Regions from separate parts of the Homo sapiens genome. Here region 1 is linked to region 2. A link means that fine-mapping ties the variant in region 2 to the expression of a gene that starts in the linked region. Tissue or cell type: whole blood. Region 2 holds a variant in brackets; the other region holds the start of a gene. All regions are shown on one strand. Distances are between the middles of the regions.

What was found. PIP is the estimated chance that this variant, and not a neighbour inherited with it, causes the effect.
Region 1: it holds the start of ID2, and the variant in region 2 is fine-mapped to the expression of ID2 in whole blood (TOPMed, PIP above 0.99).

The regions. Positions count from the first base shown.
Region 1 is chr2:8,679,218-8,684,574 of GRCh38, reverse strand. ID2 (inhibitor of DNA binding 2) reads right to left here and starts at 2,519. Exons shown (of 3, transcript NM_002166.5): 1 at 2,062-2,519; 2 at 1,669-1,732; 3 at 114-890. The coding sequence starts at 2,409. The coding sequence ends at 1,676. It overlaps ID2-AS1 (ID2 antisense RNA 1), which reads left to right and starts at 2,712. Exons shown (of 4, transcript NR_110154.1): 1 at 2,712-2,748. RefSeq lists enhancers at 2,280-2,329, 2,817-3,320, 5,215-5,357 and a silencer at 5,304-5,357.
Region 2 is chr2:8,641,769-8,647,140 of GRCh38, reverse strand. All of the region lies in intron 1 of LOC105373411 (a long non-coding RNA gene), which reads left to right. Among named protein-coding and RNA genes, the nearest start is that of ID2-AS1, 37 kb to the left of the region's middle. RefSeq lists an enhancer at 3,680-5,372. The variant T/G (reference allele first, on the strand shown) is at 2,068.

The sequences.
Region 1 (5,357 bases), 37 kb before region 2:
AAGGGGATAAAGAAAACAATGTGTGTGTGTGTGTGTGGGGGGGGGGGCCGAGAGGGGGAGACAGGGAGAGAAAAGAGCTAGTGAATGCCAGAGATCTTAAAAACCACTCGGAATTCAGGTATTGACTTCAGACATGTTTTATTATAATCTTATACAGTCTACATAAATTTGAACTTGTATTTATTTGGGTTCAGTTATAACATAGCATAATAAAAATCAAAGCACTGGTCCTCTGAAATAAAGCAGGCAATCACCATTCAATAAACACACTTGATTTATTTTGTATAAAAGGGTTAAGTTTACAACTAAACTTTTATAAAAAGTTTAGCATGAATAAGTACATCATTACACTTTTGAATGCAGAAATAGACATCTCTGCCACTATACAAGAAAACTCTAATTAAAGAGTTCACAAGGTTTCACTCAAATAGATATATTTATATATAAATATATACACAGCATTCAGTAGGCTTGTGTCAAAAAGGTAATTTCTGACCAAAAGACTTCATTTAAGTGACTGAATACTGGATCCTTCTGGTATTCACGCTCCACCTTTGAAAAAAGGCAAAGTCTGCTTAGATTGGGCAATTCCTTGTGATTTTAACGTTTTCGCTCCCCATGGTGGGAATAGTATATAAAGAAAACCTTCCAACTGCAGAAAGGGCATTTAAAAGTCTTTTTCATAAATAACGAATATCACAGTCCAAGTAAGAGAACACCCTGGGAAGATGATCATTCTTAGTTTTCCTTCCATTTTTTTTTTCTTTTTAAAAAGGTCCATTCAACTTGTCCTCCTTGTGAAATGGTTGAAAAATAAGTTCAGCACTTAAAAGATTCCGTGAATTTGTTGTTGTTGTTGTTGTGCAAAGAATAAAAGAAATCATGAACACCTGCGAAAGAGTGGGGGAGAAAGGCATGTTTAAGAGAATGTAACCTAAGGGCAGAGGCGGGCGACTGGCGCCGGGAGGAAGCCACAGTTTGAACATTTAACCAAACACTCAAAGATTGGGCAAACCCTGGCGTCCAGATGCAACACACACACTCGCCTCGACAGCGCAAATTAAACATTAAAATAGCAGAGACTCAAGGGAAAAACTTCCCAACCCAATCTCCTATTTGGATCTCCAACAGCAGTGCTACAGGCGCCAGTCTGCTTCTCGTAACAATTATTTGATTGAAAACAGCCCTTTAGTTAACAGATAGGGAAGTCTGGGATCCCACATCACAGGGTTGAAGGCACAGGGTAGCAATCCTCAACTAGCCCAGAGAATCCCAGAGGACTATAGTTTTAGGGAAGGAGGATCACTATGGAATTTGTGGCGGTAAGATTAATTACAGTGGAGGTTAGTACCTCATAGTACCAGAGGACTCGTAGGAAGATCCAGGGCATTACATTTGCTACAAAGCCAATACACACGTTCCTCGGCCGCCTTCGTAGTAAGTTATTGGCATCATTTCCTTTTAAAGGAAAATGTTCTGTGATCTCGAGCACCCAAAGCTACAAGCTCCTTCATGTCTAGTGAGACAATGTAGTACGGGTAACACCGCGAAGTAAGCATGCATTTACCAAATCAGACATTTTATAGATACACAAGCAAAAACACATGCGCGCGCGCGCACACACACCGAGGGGCAGTTTACCCACGGGTGGCACAAGCAAACACTCACCGCTTATTCAGCCACACAGTGCTTTGCTGTCATTTGACATTAACTCAGAAGGGAATTCAGAAGCCTGGAAAGAAAGAGGATAAAGAGTACGAGGTTAAGACAATGTTAAGTAGAAAGGGTTTTTTTTTTTTTTTTTTTTTTTTTGTAGTCCACAGACCAGCAAGTTCCATTAAACACGTTTATGGTAACAATTCAGATTTAAAGACAGACGCATTAACATGTCAGAACTTACTAGCAATTTCACGCACAGCTCAATCTACAGCAGATTCTGAAGAAAATAAAGTTAAATAGCTCATACGAAAGTCACCGTCTGGGCTACGGATCTCCTAGTGACAGCCCAGACGACCGCGGGAGTGTGCGGCGGCGGGGCGGGGACCCCGGAGCAGGTCTTACCTGCAAGGACAGGATGCTGATATCCGTGTTGAGGGTGGTCAGCGGCGTCCTGGACGCCTGGTTCTGCCCGGGTCTCTGGTGATGCAGGCTGACAATAGTGGGATGCGAGTCCAGGGCGATCTGCAGGTCCAAGATGTAGTCGATGACGTGCTGCAGGATTTCCATCTTGCTCACCTTCTTGTTCTGGGGGATGCTGGGCACCAGCTCCTTGAGCTTGGAGTAGCAGTCGTTCATGTTGTATAGCAGGCTCATCGGGTCGTCCACAGGGGTTTTGCTCCGGGAGATGCCCAGGCTGTGGTCCGACAGGCTGTTTTTCCTAACGGACCTCACGGGACTGAAGGCTTTCATGCTGACCGCGAGGGAAGGCGAGACCGGGAGGGAGCTGGCTGCCCTGAAGCTCAGGCCGCCGCTGCCGCCTGCTGAGCTAGCTGCGCTTGGCACCGGGCTCGGCTCAGAATGAAGCCCGAGCCCGGCGGGGCGGCTTTTATCCGCACTCGCCGGGGCCACACGCTGGAGCTTCCCTTCGTCCCCATTGGCGGAAGGTGGCACGTCTATCAAGACGAGCGGGCGCTTCCATTGGTGGGCGCGGGCGCGGGGCGTGGGCTTGGTTCTTCCGCGTTCGCAGCCAATCCCCGCGGGGTGGGCGGGGCGCGAGCCCAGCTGGGGTGGTAAATAGAGTACAGTACAGTAAGTGCGGGGCTGGCGGGGGGCGGGGGGCGGGGAGCGGCGGGCGGGGGGCGGGGAGGAGGGAGGCGGGAGGAGGGAGAGGAGGAGGGAGGAGGAAGAGAAGGGAAGATGGGGGAGGGGAAGGGGGAGGGGAAGGGGGAGGGGAAGGAGGAGGGAGAAGGGGGCAGACCCTGGGCGCCTAAATATGCATTCTTAATTCTAATTCCAAGCGCGCGGCGGGACCCTTGCCCTGGGGGTGTTCCCAGACCAAGCCCTACACACCTTAGAGCTGTCGGCAGCTCTAAAATCACAGCTACACGGGCGAGTTCAGCACCGCAGGGGGGAAGCCACAGTTCACTGCAACCCATCGGAGGGAGAGCGTGAGGAAAGATAGAAAGCATTTCAGAAGAAAGTGAAAACGCAAATTAGGTTGTCACTGAAGAGTCACGTTTGTAGAGTGAGTTCGTCTCTTCAGATAAGGAAAAGTTATGTTAACACAAACAAACCACCCACGCACGCATTCGACGACAGGCTTAGTGTGGGCTTTTGCAACCCGGAGCAGCGCGGGAGGCATTACTGTAAACTCAAGAAAATGAGTACTTATTGCAAACCATGCCCAACCTCACCGGTCGCTAAGGAGCTCTCACAGGCAGGGCGCTTTCAGGGTTCCTTTTCAAGAAGGAGGCAGGGCTATTATAATGATCGTATTAATCGGAAATAATTAGGAGAATTTGCATATTGAAACTACATTTACATACACTGCCCTTGAAAGGCTGCCGGTCTGTGCCCTTCCGTGTAGGTGGCAAAGTAATGTGATTAATTATGCACTAATTGTGATTTCTGGTGTCACATTCCAACACCTAGAGGAGTTCCAAAGCTTTGTGACAGATAGGTGGCCCTAGCCATTGATAGACATCTTCACACTAAGGAAAAAAAAATATTCTGTCATATGAGGTTTGGAATCTTTTCAGCACTAGTACTGAATACGGGTTCAAGGTTTTTTTTTTTTTTTTTGGCTGAAAATCTTTTAAGAACTCGTTCTTTCAGTCTAAGTTTTAAAAAGTTTGCAGCTATTTACTTAAATACCTTAATTTTCACATAATTGTAGCTTATCTAGAATTCTGTTTTGACCACAGTGTGTCAGTTTCTTGTTTTTGAAAATATTTGCTCCAGAAAACAATGAACTAGAAAACTCCAGGAAAGGCAATATTCAAATCTTATTTACTTTCTGCCTCAATCTCTACCTCCTTTGCATTTCAGAAAGCGGAAGGGGCAGGCCTAGAAGCTGAAAGAAAAGCTCGATAATGGGGAAACAGTGTTTTTTCCTTCAATTAATGATTAATTTCTCAGCTGGTGGGGCCAGCAGTCTCTGACCGTCACGTGACAGCTATGCGCCCCATGACGCCTCTCCAGGGAGGCAGAGTGGGTGGCACTGAGGTGGAGCTCACCTTCCTGAAATTCAGCCCCCTCAGTTTGGAGGAAGGAGGTAAACTGTTTCCTGTCCAGCCAGAAGTTTGCGGAGGGCCTTCCCCAGGCCAGGCAATGCTGCCTGCGACTCTGTCCCTGACAGCGTTGGATGCACCGTATCTCTTCTGATATTAAGTCTGGAAGTGATTTACTATCCGAGTCCTCCCACAGTTCGAGCCTTTTGATGTACTTTGTGTGCATGTGTTTCTGTCACATACGTGCCACAGTGGAACAGATTTTGTTTTGACACTATTTTGGTTCATGATGTTATACTTTGACTATTTTACAATAATAGCCAATGTAAACAAACATCTTTGGGATTCTCAAATTATTACTTATGATTCTTGGACATTGCAGCTCTTCGATACTGACGCATTCCTAGCTTTTTCCAAGGACACCGTATGTTAACATCCGTGCCAGCCTCATTATCCCCACAGCCAGGCTCTGGGTTGGGCGGTAATGAGCATTGTGCGGTTTCACTTTACACTTTGCAAAGTTGATTAAGGCAGTGCCTTCTCCCATGATCATTTTTGTACCCTGATGTAGTAAAATGGCTAAATATGGTGAAAGTTTTCTGGTGTTTCTTTCTTTAGCTGCCATGTCAGAGTCCAGTCTGCCTGGCTGTGTTGAATTCGATTCTATTGGCACGCTACCCAGTTTTACATTCATTTAAAGATCATTTAAAGGGGATTACGAAGCTGTATAAGTTAATGATTTAAACGAGGCCTAAGTTACTAGTGTGTCTGTTTCAGCACGCCCAATATGAAATCACCTTAAAAATTGCTTTCGTGGGGGAAAATCGTGTCGGAGCATTTTCCAAGTGGGTTTAAAGGCAAGTCAAAATCTGTCAATTGGTGGCTTGGGTGGGTTTGCATTTGAGGCCTCCAAAGTTCAAACGGCCCCAGCTAGAGGGAGGGCTAGATCCGCGGGCGGTGGGAAGGTGTGCAGGGCTTCCGCTGGTGGGTGTTGGTGCGGTTCCCCTCGACTCCCCACCGGGACGCCCCCACCCCGTGGCAGCGACAGACCGGCCCGTAAGGTCCCCCAGCCTGGCTCCAGGACTCACTCACTCCGCCTCTAGGGCAGGCCCCGCGGCGGCTCTCGCGTCCGGGCCCCTCGCGGTAATCAGAAGCAGCTCCGGGCCGGGAGCTCCGCGCTGGCCAGGC
Region 2 (5,372 bases):
CTTGCTGGGCCCCAAGCCAGTGTCCGGGGCAGGGGCGACATCTCCATGAGCTCTCCCCATTGCCCTTGTGCTCCAGGATGGCCTGGGATGGAGTGGATCTCGGGCCCTGGGCTCGGCCATCAGAAGTGGCAAGCTTGGCAGCCATCTTGACTCAGGGCAGACCCCAGGGACCCGGCCCTGGATGGCCTGTGTAGAGCCTTCTTCTGAAGTGCAGGAACCTGGCACCCTAGGCGGTGTGGGCACAGTGGCTGTGCCACTGGCCAGGTCCCAAAAGTGGTTGCCACTTCCACTTCCTGTCCTGGATCCCCAAAGTGCAGCCCCAGCTCTGCACTGGGGCCCCTTTCTGCCCAGCCATGCTGCTCCCCTGCTGCACTGCTCCCCCTCCTGAACGGGATTGGGCTCGGCCCCTTGCAGCCACCCCCAGGGCAGTGGGCTGTGGGGGGCCCTGTCCACCTCCTACCTGCACCCTCCCTGCAGCAGCTGGTGTGATGGTAGTGCCACACCACATGCTTGTTGCTGCCATCAATCCCTGCTCTGAAGAGGTACATCTAATGGCCGTTAGGATAGGGACGATGACTGCTCTTAACTTAGAGGCCTATCTAGGGTCCCCAGTGTAGAGAGCCATCGTCCGCCATTTGCATGGCCATTTGGAGTTTGATGGCCCAACTGTTTCTTCTGAACTGTAGTCACAGACCACTGGTTGGTTCACCCCCACAATGGCCAAAAGCTACAAACAGCTTAAAAGAAAAGCTTCCTCGATTCTGGAAGACAAAACAAAGGATCAACCATGTCCCAAAAAGTCAAAAGAAGATGACTTCAGTCTTCCACTGGTTCAGTTCACCAGGTCAACTCCTGTTCAAAATCTTCAGTTATCAGAAACCTACACTGAGGGCTGAAGACGGTCCTTTGAAGAGTGTCAAAACTAGACAACACTTGTCTGAACGTCAAAATGTCCTAGGCTAGTCACAGTCAAAAACACAATGGATAAAGAACTGGTTGCCTCTGTAGTCTCCAAGAACCTAACAGTAACCTTAATTATGATTGAGAACACACACTCCGACAGCAGGATTTGAGGAGGCCCCTACCATTTTGGAGCACATATTAACATGACTCACTAAAATATAAATACCTTATTTTGACAGTTGGGGGGTTGTGTTTTTTTCTTTTAAAATTAGTATGTGGCCTGAACAGGGAGGAACGTGGGCGCTTTTGAAGGGCTGCGCCGGGAGGAACCAACAGCCTTTACTGGGGCTGAGGCGCAGGGGCAGCGCTTTCCGGGGCCGTGACTCCACTGGGGCCTCGTAGGCGCTCCGGGCACACGGACAGATCCCGGGGAAGGGGCCAAGGGCAGAGCAGGGCGCATGTCAGAGCCCCGGCCACCGTCTCGGCAGCTGCCCTCTCGGAGGCCATGGCCGTGGCCCTGCTGTCGGCTCCAGGCTGAGGCCAGGACGTCGCCGTGCCCGGGGGTGCGGAGCCTGGCATGGATCGCAGTTTGGGAACAGGCACATGGCCCACGGGGCTCCTCTGGGTTCCTCCCCAGGCGGGCGGGCGGGCCGCGGGCAGCCCCCAGGAGTCACCCGTGGCCTGGGCTGGCCTGGGGGTCGTGGTGACTCGGTAGCCTCGCCCCAGCGGTGCGGTCCGGGAACAGGAGCCCGCGTGGCTTCTCGGCGCCTCCGCCCCAGTCGCACTTTGTAGTAGCCCCACCTGAGGCTCCCATGCCCTGGCACCGAGGGGCAGCCGCCCCACCCTGCTGACTTCCCGCGCCGTGCTCACAGGGCCTCGGACAGAGGGCGGAGCCTCGGTGCTTGTCGGAGGGGCTGGGGGTCAGAGGGCACAGCGATGGGGCAGAAAGCCAGGTCGGGGCTGAGCAGTGAAGCTGAAGAAGGAGCGCGATGGGAAACTTGAGGAGTCAGGATGCGATTCTAGACCTACAGCTGCTCCTTCTGCTCCTTCTCGTGGGACGAGATGGGGGCAGCAGCCGGGGTGACTTTCCCTGCCCTCCTCACTCGGCTTGAGGAGGAATGACGCGGCCACCAGGGAGCGTGGGGCGGAGGGGGCCCCCTGGTG[T/G]TCACGGGGCCCAGGGCACCGGGCCAGTGAGGTCCCTGGTGTGTCCCATCGTCCCCTGCCCGCCTCTGGGGCTGGTTTTTCTGCCATGGCTAAGGTCCTGCAAGCGGCCTGCGGGTTCTCAGCTCTCAAACCCAAGCTCCTGCCCCACCCTCCTCCAAGAGCTGGTTCTTGGAGTGCAGCCTTGGAGTGCGGCCCGCCCTGGGAGGACGCTTCCAGGAAGGAACCTGCCCAGGCCTTGGCAATGGGGCCAGGCCCTTTGGGCAGAGATTTCTGGGCTCCGAGGTGCCTAGGGCATGGTGTAGAAGTTGGGGCACGGGCTTCCTGTGGGCCGACCCTGCAGATCCTGCCTGGCTTTGCTAGGACTACCCACTTTACAAAGCACCACAAACCGCCAGGCTTGAGCAACAGGAAGCCCTTGCCTCATAGTTCTGGAGGCTGCAGGTCTGGCAGGATTGGCTTTTCAGAGCACCTCTGTCCTTGGCTTGGAGGTGGCCATCTTCTCCCTGTGTCTCTTCACATTGTCTTCCTTTTATGTGTCTGTGTCCTACTTTCCTTTTTCTGTAAGGCCACCAGTCATATTAGGTAGGGCCCACCCTAATGACCTCACTTTAACTTGATTATCTTTGTGAAAACCTGATCCCCAAATAAGGTCATACTGTGAGATTCTGGGGGTCAGGACTTCAGCATATGGATTTTGGGGGAAAACAATTCAATCCATAACTGATTCAGTCCGTAGCCAGGTTGGGAAGGGCTCAGCCAGATGTGGGCTGAAGCTAAGCCCTCAAAAGCTCAGGGCCCAGGACAGGGTCCTTTTCCTAAGGACCCTAGAGGCGACGGGCAGTGGGGAGGGATGAGATGTGATGGGAGATGAGCCCAGAGTGGTGGGGGCCCTGATGAAGGGGTTGGCACATGGGTGGTGGTACAGCAGGAAGTCTCTGAAGGGCTTTGGGAACGGACAGTACAGTGACCAGATCTGCACCCCAGAACCCTGACTCTTGGTCCAGGCTGCACCCCAGACTGGGGTGGGACCCCATCAGTATTGGATGTGTAGGCATGTCTGTGAAGCGCTGCTTTAGAAGCCTAGCTGAGCATGTGATGGTTAAGTTCATGAGTCAACTTGACTGGGCTAAAGGACACCCAGAGAGCTGGCAAGACGTTATTTCTGGGAGTGACCCCAACAGGCAGAGTACTCCTTTTAAAGACAACTGAAAGGAAAATATCCACCAGCGAGGCATTTCCTAGTCCTGTGACCAGGAAGTGATCAAAATGGCTCAGTTTTGACCTTCAAGCTTTAGCAAGGTGGTCAAGGCCAGGTGGTATGGGAATGGACGCTGGAAAAGCCCAGGTCAAGCTGGCCTGTCTCTCTGTTCCCTGCAGTGGAAGCAGGGCCTCCTGGACACCTGAATGAAAGAGACGCTCTGTGTATCCCTGTTATCAGGCAAAAATGCATCTCATATGTAATCAGGAACATTTTATCCAAATCCTTGCTCAGATGTGGACACAGGGGAAGAAAGCAAAACAAGTCCGGGCACCCAGAGCCCATATGGGCCACAGACACACCCTGTGAGCACTTATCGGGGGGGCTAATAACACCCCCCCAACACCATGTGACCCCTCTCCAGGATAGCACACAACTGTTTGCAGTGCAATGAATGTGACATTTATTCTCAGCTATGTGCAGAGTCAAGTGAGGTTATAGCAAATAAAATACAGAAATATTCATTTTCCTTCTAAAAAGGGCTCTTAAATGTCAAATCAAATGAAATGGAATCATTGTATCGGGGCAGAACACATATAGCTTGCAGATTGTGCAAACTATATGTTCCCCCAACCTCGCTGCTCCCTGTAGAAGCATTTTATTGACCTAGGCCAGTTAAATAAAGTTCATATACACTTATTAGTTAAGCAAATGTCATTTGCTAGAGTCTGACCAAAATTCATTAGCTAACTTCTCCTCACTTTCAGCTCCTCCCACCCCAGAAACCTCACACTTTTTGTCTGGTTTTCTTTGCCGGACTAATTATAAGGTTTTCTGACAGCAAGTATACATGAACTAGTTGAGCTCTGTAGTCCACCTTTAACACCTGAAAATGATCCCACTAAAATTCCTGGCATGCGGCATCCAGACGTCAGCATTTCTGGGCCCCGAGGCTTTGGGAGCACGCAGGCTGTGGGAAAAGCAGGAGGGAAGCCTGGGGCTGCTAGGCTAATGCCCAGGAGTGGCTGGACCAAGCTGAGTGGCAGCCTGCCCTATCCTGAGAGAGCCAGTGCAGGAGACTCAACCGAGCAATAAACATGCCCAGCTCCAAAAGGCAGGCCTCTGTGCACAGATGTTGTGATGTTATGAGATAATTTTCAGGCCTCAATGGGGTGAAAGGGTGGATTTGTCAAGAGAGGGGCATACCTATGGCGGTCTTTTCACTGAGCAACACCATGATTTCATTACCATGTCAATTCTGGGAGAAGGCCCTGATTTAACACAGCAGTTGGCTGAATGCATATGGAGCGGGTGGACCTCTGAATGAATAGTGAATGGAAAACCGGCTGGAATCTGCCTTCAGCTTTGTTTCAGGATGACCAATGTAAGGGACCCCAGAGCTTGCAGCACAGATGGTAGGAGGGGACCGGGACTCCGCTGGGCTTCTCTTCTTCTCCTTTTTATTCTATCACTTGCGGGGGTTCCTCTGTATTTGTGTACATATTTCAGTTGCCTAACTAAATTTGCTGCAATTTCTCATTCTACTAAAGCAAAATTAGCTTTGAGGGGAATTAGAGATGAAACACAATAACATATGTAGCAATAAACATTAAAATTTTGTGCTGTTAAAAATTGGAGTTTCAAAGACTCAGTGTTGTGAGGTTTAGAAGTAATTGAAAATGTAATTAAGAAATCATGAAAAAGACAATTAAAAGTTTGAAAGACAAGTTCAGAATTACTTCTGAAGTTCTCCAGTGTGAAGGGAATGTGCAGATTCTCACGTCGGTGCCTGCGTACATCCAGAAAAGAAAGGTTAGGTGCTTTCAGAGAGCAGGGTGGCGTCCGAAGGGCAAGTACTGTAAATCAAAGGACTCTCTGGCATTATCTAGCTTCCTTTCTGCTTTAAAAGTTAGAACAGATGTCACAAGAGAGGACAAAATGGATTTTACCCACCAAGAGAGGCTTTTCTTGCCATCCTTAATAGGAAGCGCCTTGAAATGTTAATGTACACAGTTTGTGTTGCCGGGGTTTGCATAGAGATGGTGGGAAACAGCTCTGATCCCAACAAAACCTTTTGTTATTAATCAAGAAAATCTGGTCCGCTGAA